Linked DNA regions of Homo sapiens. The protein of the gene in region 3 interacts with the protein of the main gene of each other region in a biochemical or structural test. Each region holds a gene or a part of one and is shown on either strand. Other genes may lie near its edges.

Region 1 (3,750 bases), on a different chromosome or scaffold from region 3:
TGTCTATATATATTTTAAATTCCCCAAAAACTGCACTGGCTTTCATGGTCCACACCCCTAGTCTGGCACTGCAGCTCCGATGACTCCTGCTGTGCCTCTGAGCCATCTCTAGGGGTTGTGGTGCTCTCTACTCACCAACAGGAGACTTTAGCAGGAGTAAGTCCTGACTGTAGCAGAATCCAACCTCTGTGTTCCTGATACATTGCCTGTTTCAACAGCCACGAGAGGAAGCGTGCAAACACAGCGTGCAGTTAGTCTTAGAACATCACATGAGGGCACAAGTAGACACACATCTTCACACCTACAGCAGTGCCTACGGAGGGACCTGAGGGGAGCTGCCTGAGTGGGCGGGATGGAGCCAGAGAGATCCAAGTGTCACCCAGTGGTGGCTCTCCCCAGCTCCCAAAGAGCCCCGGGAGACTCTGGAACACTACTCCGAAATACCAAGCACCAAATGGTACAGTAACAATTTCAAAATGTACATCTGCATAAATGACCCCTACTTAGAGTGATCCCTTTATCTCTTACTAAACTCTGCATTCATAGACCAATGGGGCTTTCTCCCTGCCCTAAGTGCTCCATCTCTAACACTGGTATGAAGGAAACACCAAGCGGCACTGCTGATGCTGCCCAGCCCCACTGAGCGCAGAGGCCAACGACGTCGGGTACAAGACCAGTCTAAGAGGAGGGAGAGAACCTTGCTACCCAGCACTAGCTGGGTGTCTGGGAAGCCGGTGCCCTTTTCTCCTGGGGAGGAGCAGAGCAGGTGCAGAGATCTGGCTGCAGGGGTGGGGCGTTGGCCAGGGAGTGGGGTGAAAGCTGATCTAAAAACTGAAGCCCAGTCTCAGTTCCTACCAGAAATATTAATCATAGAGACCACAGATTTTGGTTCTTGTTCAAGAAACACAGTGTGGCCATAAGTAAGCCCGATTTCCATTAACAACTGGGATTTTAAGTTTTTGCAAATCGGAAGCAGGTACTGGCTGCTCCCGGTTATGTTTTTTGTTTTCCCACAGGTATACCAGGAACACTTAATCAACATCCTGCATGGTTCCAGCAAAGACATTAAGACAGTTGGGACTGTTGGTGAGGACAGATGATCTTCACAAACCCTCTGACTCTTAAGAACCTGGGAGACCTGCTGGAGTTTACCCCACATTCCCTTAATTAAAAAGCCATTAAAATAGTCAACTTTGCTGGGCACGGTGGCTCGCGTCTGTAATTCCAGCAATTTGGGAGGTCAAGGCAGGAGGATTGCTTGAGCCCAAGAGTTAAGACCAGCCTGGGCAACATGGTGAGAGCCCATCTCTACAAAAAATTCAAAAAATTAGCAAGGCATGGGACCACACCTGTGGTCCCAGCTACTTGGGAGGCTGAGGTTGCAGTAAGCCGAGACTGAGCCACTGCACTCCAACCTGGGCAACAGAGTGAGACCCTGTCTCAATAATAATAATAATCCCTTTAGCAGGCTTGTGCCTGAGTTATTTAATGTAAGGGTAAAAAGTCTTCTTTATAATAAATTCCCTATACCTTTTAGGTTTACTTTTTTTTTTTTTTTGAGACAGAGTTTTGCTCTTGTCGCCCAGGCTGGAGTACAGTGGCATGATTTCGGCTCACTGCAACCTCTGCCTCCCAGGTTCAAGCCATTCTCCTGCCTCAGCCTCCTAAGTAGCTGGGATTATTGGCATGTGTCACCATGCCTGGCAAATTTTTTCTTTTGAGACAGTCCTGCTCTGTCGCCCAGGCTGGAGTGCAGTGGTGTGATCTTGGCTCACCACAAGCTCCGCCTCCTGGGTTCATGCCATTCTCCTGCCCCAGCCTCCCGAGTAGCTGGTACTACAGGCGCCTGCCACCGTGCCCAGCTAATTTTTTTTTTTTTTTTGTATTTTTAGTAGAGATGGAGTTTCACCGTGTTAGCCAGGATGGTCTTGATCTCCTGACCTCGTGATCCTCCCGCCTTGGCCTCCCAAAGTGCTGGGATTACAGGCGTGAGCCACCGAGCCCGGCCGATTTTTTTGTATTTTTACTAGAGACAGGGTTTCACCACGTTGGCCAGGCTGGTCTCACCACGTTGGCCAGGCTGGTCTCGAACTCCTGACCTCAGCTGATCCACCCACCTCAGCCTCCCAAAGTGCTGGGATTACAGGCGTGAGCCACCGCGCCCGGCCTAGGTTTACTTTTCATCCATCCAAACTCTCATTCTTAATATTCCTGTTAACATTTAACAAGGGAGATGTGATTTATCAGAAGGAAAACTGAAATTGAAGCCACAAGTAAAACAAGAAAGCACTCGTGGACTCCAGGTGACAGAGCTTGAGCTGAAGGCCAAGTCACAGTTCTGCTTTCTAAGAATTATATGCATGACTCTTGGAAGAAAAATGCTAATTTGTAAAAAGTTCCTAGTTAAAAGATATACTGGGTTTTCCCCCTTGAGTATATTATCAAATTCTGGCAAACAATAAATAAATAATACAGCTTTTTACTAAAAATGCCACAAAGTAAGCTATTCTCACCCAAAGCGTCCAGCTTAACTAAGGTTTTATTTAAATGTACTTTTCTTTTTATTTTTATACAGGTGATAGAGAACAAAATTTATGAACCTACGTACGGGAGGGACTGATGACAAAAAAAATTGGCAAAAACCCCATTCGCACAGTTTTCAATTATTATTTTTTTTTTTTTAGAGATGGGGTCTCACTGTGTTGCCCAGGCTAGTCTCAAACTTCAGCTCAAGTGATTCTCCTGCCTCTCAGCCTATCAAAGTGCTAGGATTACTGGTATAAGCCACCATGCTTGGCCCCTAATTAGCACTTAAAAAAAAATTTTTTTTTTTTTTGAGACAGAGTCTCAGTCTGTCATCAAGGCTAGAGTGCAGCGGCACAATCTCGGCTCACTGCACCCTCTGCCTCCCAGGTCCAAATGATTCTTGTGCCTTAGCCTCCCAAGTAGCTGGGATTACAAGCATGTGCCACCACACCTGGCTAATTTTTGTATTTTTTTTTTGTAGAGACGGGGTTTCGCCATGTTGGTCAGGCTGGTCTCAAACTCCTGGCCTCAAGGATTAGCACAGTTTTTAATGCCACTTCCTTTCCTCCAGTCTGCTCACTGGCCTCAGAAGTGAGCATGAGTGACCTGTGTGTAGCACAGGGGCTGCCAAACAGCCCCGACTGACACGGGCTCAGAACTTCACCAGCTTAATGAATGAGGCATTCAATCATCGCAACTACTCTATGAGGAAGACACTACCATGACGACCATTTTACAGATGGGGAGACCGAGGCCAGGGTAGTTAAATGACTTGTTCAGGGTCATGCACCTCCTAGTGGCAGAGCTGGAGTCAAACCTAGGCAGCCTGGCTCTTCAACCTGTGCACTGCCTTTCATTAGATGAGTACAAGGGCAGAGTTGAGAGACCTGTAAGGAAGCCATGGTCAACTGTTAACCTCAAATCAAAGTGGCCGTCTAAGGGAAAATCCCAAACTGCATGTGAAATCATGGCAGTGATGCTCTCTCTCTGGCTGGTATAGTCAATAGCTGCCTCGCTCCACTGGGGACTTCTTGGAGGTTCACCTTCCTCCCTTCCCTGCCCTCTAATGGGTAGACATGTGACTGCACGGAACAGCAGCAGCAGGGAGGGCAGAAAGCATAGGCAGAGCTCACACAAGCTGGAAACTGTGTGTTCTTAAAAATGTACTCAGTTATTTTCTCTGGTGTGGAGAGCAGTAAATTATGTGGTTTGGAAGCTACTACT
Region 2 (3,750 bases), on a different chromosome or scaffold from region 3:
TTAAATGAAAGGAGGCTTTGAAGTGGGAGCCGCCTCTGAGCACGGCTTGGGGTTCCTGCCTCCCTTGGTAAAGTTCAGACTTGTCCAGATCTGTTTGTAGCCAGAGGTTACTGTTTCTGGTGGAAAAGGCTCAAGTTTGGGTTAATAATACATTATGAGGAAGAGCAGGAGTAAACCTGGGGAGGGCGGGGGCGGCGGGGGGGAGCGGCGGCAACGAATGAGTTCCTCCCAGCCTTGGTGTGAGAAGTAGCTTTCTGATTTGGCCTTCATGGTTCAGGAGTATCATTTTCTCTCTTACGGTCACTGGCTTCCATTTTATAATAATGCTCGTTGCATCTCAGAGCATATTCTCCTTGGTGAAGAACATCTTTAAGTAAATGTATCAATCAATGAAAATTAAAAGTGCTCAGCTAAGCCCTAGCAATGCCTTCAGGACTTGATGGTTACCAGTTTAAGGAAAGTCTTGAAAATGGCAGGAAATTCAATTGTAGTTGAGTTTGCACATTAAAAAAATTGCTCTCCTAGTTTCAGAGTTAAATATTCAGCCAGCCCACAGAAATTGGAAGTCACAGTTATAGACGGGTCACAGTCTGTTCATGTTGATAGTCTGTTAACAAAATGTAGAAGAGTCTGCAAGCAGGTATTCAAAATAACAGCTCCTCATAGCCAGCCATGTCAACGTGGTTTACAAACAACAGTGGAGAAAGTCTCAACAAACCCTCTGAGGGTGATAACTGTAATGATGGTTCGTATCTTTGCCCTATGTAATTTTATGGGAATTGAGAGTCTAGCCAAATAATAAGTTCCAGCCCTTTTTATCTGCCCAGTTCCCAGCACACTCCCGAGGTGTCTGAGGCACTTCTCAACCCAACCTCTTAAAGCAGATTGTAACAATAACAACGGTAATGACAAGTTCCCGAGCTGCACAGTTCCCTTCATTTAAGGAGCGCTGGGAGCTTCAAAAAAACACTCATTAATGGAATCTGACAAAGCTTGCAAGATGGGAAGTCTCTCCCATTTCCAGTTTTCTGGTGGAAAAGTGGGGACTGAGTCCCAGAGGGGTGTCAGTCTCTCTCAAGGGGCTTGAGGGGGTAGGGGGTTTGGGAGTCCTGGGCTACCATTATTCCATGAAATTCGAGAGTCAAGAGTCCCGGGTTCTGGACGCCCCCTTCCCCGGCGTGCTATTTACCAAGTCGCTTCCCATTTCTGGGCCCCAGTTCCCTTAATAGAAGGAAGGGTTGGGCCAAATGGTCTCCAAGATCTCTGCGGTCAACCCTGTCTTTGCCCCCTCACCTCGCGGTTGGGGGTTTCTCCCGCTTCAGAGTTCGGTTAGACTTGTAGTAGAACCGGGTCGGGGGTGGGAGTGGCGTCGAGGGGTTGGAGTGTTGCGGATGCGGGAAGGAGGATGCCTGATGGGGTCCTGGACAAACTGGTGTTTCACGAGTACCGTCCTATGGGAAGCAGGTCTGGGGAGACCAGGTGAGGCTCTAGGACGAGCTCGGAGCCCCAAATCCCCCTGCTGCCTGCAGCGAAACAATGCGAGTAATGTGCCTTCCCCGCCCAGCCCGGGAGCTGCGCGGATAGGAGCGTCCGCGGGTGCGGGATGGCAGCGGGGAGGCGGATATCGCGGCGGGAGGGCTCCGCGCGGCTTTTGCCCATAGGCGGCGGGTCAGGTGGCCGCGCGCAAGAAGGCCTGGGGCTCAGACATGGGCTTCGGGACAAGTCCCAGGCCGTCCCGTTCCCCAGAACCTGGGCCCTTCAGCCCGGAGTAGTTGGCCTTCCCTTTGTGGTTGGGGGGCGGTGGGCTGGCTCCCCGCCTCCGAGGAGGAGGGGAGGAAGGAGGAGCCGGGTGGGGCGTGTCACGCGAAGGAGCGCCGGGCGCCCGGTGCGGCCCCCTAGGAAGTGGATTTGGCCGCTCCGGATCCAACCCGGCTTCCAGGTTTTCTCCCGGCCCGGCCCAGCGTGCTCCCGCCTGTCTCCGGCCCCCCCACGACGCCCGCCCCCTCCCCCCGAGTGCCGCCCGCTTGGCCAAGTTTGCGGAGCGTCGCCGCGCACGCCGGCCAGTCAATCAGCGGCAGAGCTGAGAAGGGCACAGCCGCGCGGCGGAGGGCAGAGTCAGCCGAGCCGAGTCCAGCCGGACGAGCGGACCAGCGCAGGGCAGCCCAAGCAGCGCGCAGCGAACGCCCGCCGCCGCCCACACCCTCTGCGGTCCCCGCGGCGCCTGCCACCCTTCCCTCCTTCCCCGCGTCCCCGCCTCGCCGGCCAGTCAGCTTGCCGGGTTCGCTGCCCCGCGAAACCCCGAGGTCACCAGCCCGCGCCTCTGCTTCCCTGGGCCGCGCGCCGCCTCCACGCCCTCCTTCTCCCCTGGCCCGGCGCCTGGCACCGGGGACCGTTGCCTGACGCGAGGCCCAGCTCTACTTTTCGCCCCGCGTCTCCTCCGCCTGCTCGCCTCTTCCACCAACTCCAACTCCTTCTCCCTCCAGCTCCACTCGCTAGTCCCCGACTCCGCCAGCCCTCGGCCCGCTGCCGTAGCGCCGCTTCCCGTCCGGTCCCAAAGGTGGGAACGCGTCCGCCCCGGCCCGCACCATGGCACGGTTCGGCTTGCCCGCGCTTCTCTGCACCCTGGCAGTGCTCAGCGCCGCGCTGCTGGCTGCCGAGCTCAAGTCGAAAAGTTGCTCGGAAGTGCGACGTCTTTACGTGTCCAAAGGCTTCAACAAGAACGATGCCCCCCTCCACGAGATCAACGGTAGGTGGGCACACCCGGGAGGTGGGCGCAGAGACCGACACTTCGGGAAGGGAGGCTGCAACTCCCTTCCCCCGCCCCGCCGCCCCCTGCGCCGGACGCAGGTACACTAGAGGGAGAAATGGGCAGTCGAGAGGGCAGGAGCGAGCGAGCGAGAGAGCCAGGCAGCCCGGGCGCAGGACGTTCCCCGCGGGCGCAGCGCTCCCCCCTTCCCAGCACTGCGAGCGGAGGGGCGCCGCCGGGTTGCCCAGTGCGACTGTCGCGCTCCGCTCCCCGCCTCCGCTCCTCCTCTCCCCCCTGCATTATTCGCCGTCCCGGGAAGCCCCTGAGGACTGTGGCCCTCAAAGTGCGTGTCACCGGCTACTTCTCCTTTTCCGGGTTGAACTCCTTATAGGACGCCCCGCTTTGTTGTATGGGTGAGGAGAGGCCGGGTGGGGGTGGGGGTCGCCAGTGGGGTGTGGTGGAGGGAAACGTCCCGGAGCTTGCTAGATTCTGGGGGTCGCAAAACGTGGAACTTGAATTGATGTTTCATTGATGTTCTTTTAAAACTCTCTCCCCGCCTCTCTTGCACCGCTGACAAGGATTAGGAGTTTTAGTAGCCGCAACCGCTTCAGAAGTCGCCTTTAAAAAGCAAACGACTACCCCCACTCTCCACCCCTCCAAACCCTGACTTTTGGGAACTCTCCTACTTTCCGGAAGGTATCAGACCAGAGGAGTATTTTTCCCCTCTTTCTTTTTTCTTACCTCATTTTAAGGGTTAATTGCACTTTCAATTACAGACCTTTGAAAGGACTGATTACAGGAAACCTGAATCTCAGTTTGGAGATGGTTATGCAAATAGAGACGGCTTAGCCTGTGAGAAAGTTCACCGGATTTTGGCGCCGGTGGGGTGGGATGGGGGGTGTATGGGGGTATTTGTGAAAGCCCCTCTCGGAGCGCTGGGGAGGCAGCGTTCGGCGGGTGCCCTGCGTCCCTCCCAGCGAAGCTGGCGGCGGTGTCCGGCCGGG
Region 3 (3,750 bases):
CTCATAAATGACAAATATTAGAATGCAGTCTCTATTTGTGGTTTAGATCAAAAAATTATTTTTATTTATCCTAGCTTTACGTGCATCTCACGGAAACAGGATACACGGTGTATATATTATTATGCAGTTCGTTGGAACTAGAATTTCAAAAAATTTTAATAAATATGTTTAATCTGTTGCCTCTGGAGAATATTGAGAATTAATAGTTGTGTTTCCACCCACTCGTTTCAACGGAGTTTCATATATTGAAGGCTGTATTCTCTGTTGAAAGCTCTATTTCACCATGGATTTTTCTCAGCAGAGACTCAGGTGTTTAATCCTTGACACCATCACTGACATTTGGACAAATCATGTAAATGCTCTATACACATAAAGGGGAATTAAAGATGTCTGCCAATGTCCCTACATTAAAGTACTATTTTAAAATTAAGATAATTGTAAATATATTAAAAGCAAGTGGAATAGTTCACACAGTTTCCAACTTATGGATGGGTGGTGTTCTGAGAGTGTGTGTTGGTCGTTAAGATCTCTGGATGCATTTTTCCTGAGGAACACAATGAGTACACAATGATGTGGTTCCTGGGCCTACCTTCAACACACATGTTTTATATATACAACACAACACACATGTTTTATATATACAACACAACACACATGTTTTATATGTATAACACAGCACACATGTTGTTGAATAATTATTTATCTAAAAACTTTAGAAACTATTGTTTTCATACATTGTAGATTAGCTGAGTTATATCAGCATGTGATGAATCTTCCCAGCATGTGAAACAAAACTGTTGCTCCATTGGTTAAGGAAATAAATATCTTAATGATATTTCTTAGAGCAGAGCACATCTCCACTTGGGTTTCACTTTCTGAAATACAAAATGAAGAGGCTAATCAGTCCATCTCTGAGGTTAATATTCTATGTATTGTCTCATAATCTTTTTAGTGATTTTTTTACCTTCATCTATATCCCCATGGTATGATTTTTTATCACCTGTTTCCCATTACTGTAAGCTTTCCTCCTTTCCTACCATCTTTCTTTTTCTTCACATTCATAATTTTGAGGCACAGTTTCACTGTCACTCAGGCTGGACAGCAATGGTGTGATCATAGCTCACTGCAGCCTCAAACTCTTTGGCTCAAGCAATTCTCCCACCTCAGCCCCCTGAGTGGCTAAGACTACAGACATGTGACACCATGCCTTCCCCCCTCCCCCCGTAGAGATAAGGTCTTGCTATGTTGCCAAGCTGTTTGTTTGTTTGTTTGTTTGTTTGTTTTTGAGACGGAATTTGCTCTTGTTGCCCAGGCTGGAGTGCAGTGGCATGATCTCGGCTCACTGCAACCTCTGCCTCCCGGGTTCAAGTGATGCTCCTGCCTCAGCCTCCCGAGTAGCTGGGATTACAGGCATGCACCACCACACCTGGCTATTTTTGTGTTTTTTGTAGAGACAGGGTTTCTCCATGTTGGTCAGGCTGGTCTCAAACTCCCAACCTCAGGTGATCCACTGCTTCCCAAAGTGCTGGGATTACTGGTGTGAGCCACCACACCCAGCCGCTGGTTTTGAACTCTTGGGCTCAAGCAGTCCTCCCACCTCAGCTCCCAAAGTGCTGGGATTATAGACATGAGCCACCATACTTGGCCTTTCTTCTTCTTTCTGTTAACTTGGTTTAGTTTTTATTCTGATGATCATCCCTCAATGTCTTTCACTGTGGATTCCAATAATAATTGCTCTCCATTAAAAATAAATACAGACATAATAATACATTGAATGAGTAGATTAGACCTTTTCACATATCTAACTTAAAGGTAAATAAATTATGTATTCATTGGAAGCTAGCCTTTCACCATAAGAAGTTTAATATTCAGATTATTAATAATTATGGTTAATATTGATAGAATGCAGAACCTCATGCTAAGACTTTTACATGAATTTCCTCATTTATTATTCATAAGAACAATATAAAATAGCTCTTAATATAATTCCCATTTTACAGATGAAGAACTTGATGAATGATGTGGATAGTAAAGTTAGAAAGTGCAAATTAAATTCATAGTAAGTCAATACGATATTATTTTGTAGTTTGGTTTTTTTTTAAACTTTTAAGCAACATAGCAGCACAATTAAGCATTTAAGCAGTCGACTCCAGACAGAGGTGGGTTTGCCTTATAGATTTCTCACTTGTTACATGCTAGCCTTGGAAAGTTTTCTACCTCTCTGGGCCTCATTTTCTCATTATAGAAGATAGAGATAATAATAACTAATCCGAGAATGTAGTGAGGAGTCAGGAATGTAAACCAATTGTGAATACTATATGCAATGCACTTAGCGTGACGCCGGTACATTGCACATATTCAACGAATAAATAATCATTATAGTTATTCTTATTAGCCATATCTAATTGGCTGATCTTTGCTCAAATTAATTTATCTTTGATATGAACCTTTATGTGTGAAGGTTTAAAACGTGCAGGTGTCAAAAAAATCCCCTTAAGCTGTTGTTTCAATGATAATTTCTGTTTTGTGTCCATTATCAAATTCTAGTATCTCAGCCTACTTTAATAAAGTAAGACAAGGAGCATATTTCCACAAAGGTATGTAGGTCAAACATTGCCTGTTTTGTTTTGTTTTGGTAAGTAAGAAAATGGGAATACCAGTAGAGTGGAACTCCCTCATTTGGCAATGACTGAAATGTGAACGTTCAGATTGGTTGGTCTTACCACTCCATCCCATGTGCTCCAGTTCCAGGGAAACCTCGGCTTGTGATTAACCACACTCAGATGAATACTGCTCTTATTCAGTGGCACCCTCCGGTGGACACATTTGGACCTCTTCAGGGCTACCGTCTAAAATTTGGCCGCAAGGATATGGAGCCACTTACTACTCTTGAGTTCTCTGAAAAAGAAGATCACTTTACAGCTACAGACATCCACAAGGGAGCATCATACGTCTTCAGGCTCTCAGCCAGAAACAAAGTGGGCTTTGGGGAGGAGATGGTGAAGGAGATTTCCATTCCAGAAGAAGTACCAACTGGATTCCCTCAAAACCTTCACTCAGAAGGCACCACTTCAACCTCCGTCCAGTTATCTTGGCAACCACCTGTCCTGGCAGAGAGAAATGGCATTATCACCAAGTATACCCTTCTTTATAGGGATATCAACATCCCCCTTCTCCCGATGGAGCAGCTTATTGTTCCAGCTGACACCACTATGACACTCACTGGCTTAAAACCAGATACCACATACGATGTAAAAGTACGTGCTCATACGAGCAAAGGGCCCGGGCCATATAGTCCCAGTGTCCAGTTCAGGACACTGCCTGTGGATCAAGGTAGGATTTGTCTGCTTACGGCCTTCCTCCTTTAAAGGATTGTCAGTCTTTGGAAATCAGTATTTTGAAGCTATAATAACTGATCAGCCCATTCATATTAATAGGTTCAGCAAAAACAAAAAGGTAAAGTATGTAAAACTTACTACGTCTTGGATGCCTTAGATTTCAGTTATAGAATGTCAAGCAAGTCTGGCTGACAGCACCCCAATGTCCTCAGGTAAGGAAAACACAATAGAGTTGGCTGAATTGGAGAGAAAGGAAAGATCTCTGTGAGAATGGGGTATTAAAATGAATGCTCTAAACAGGTAGGAAAATCATACTTCTCTCTCTGATCAAAGTAGACAGCATCTAGCATAAGCCCCTATGGTCCATGGTGGAAAGGACAGGTCATCTGTTTTAAGAATAGTTTAAATACAC

What was found.
Region 1: the proteins of PTPRD (region 3) and PPFIA1 form a complex in vitro, tested with the Homo sapiens proteins (one study listed by BioGRID).
Region 2: the proteins of PTPRD (region 3) and GPC4 form a complex in vitro, tested with the Homo sapiens proteins (one study listed by BioGRID).

Annotation. Positions count from the first base shown.
Region 1 is NC_000011.10:70,378,544-70,382,293, reverse strand, and holds part of PPFIA1 (liprin-alpha-1), read right to left. Parts: intron 207-3,750; coding exon 148-206; 3' UTR 136-147; intron 1-135. UniProt on the Homo sapiens protein: May regulate the disassembly of focal adhesions. May localize receptor-like tyrosine phosphatases type 2A at specific sites on the plasma membrane, possibly regulating their interaction with the extracellular environment and their association with substrates.
Region 2 is NC_000023.11:133,413,802-133,417,551, reverse strand, and holds the start of GPC4 (glypican-4 precursor), read left to right. Parts: upstream 1-2,062; 5' UTR 2,063-2,586; coding exon 2,587-2,746; intron 2,747-3,750. UniProt on the Homo sapiens protein: Cell surface proteoglycan that bears heparan sulfate. May be involved in the development of kidney tubules and of the central nervous system.
Region 3 is NC_000009.12:8,485,345-8,489,094, reverse strand, and holds part of PTPRD (receptor-type tyrosine-protein phosphatase delta isoform 1 precursor), read left to right. Parts: intron 1-2,745; coding exon 2,746-3,333; intron 3,334-3,750.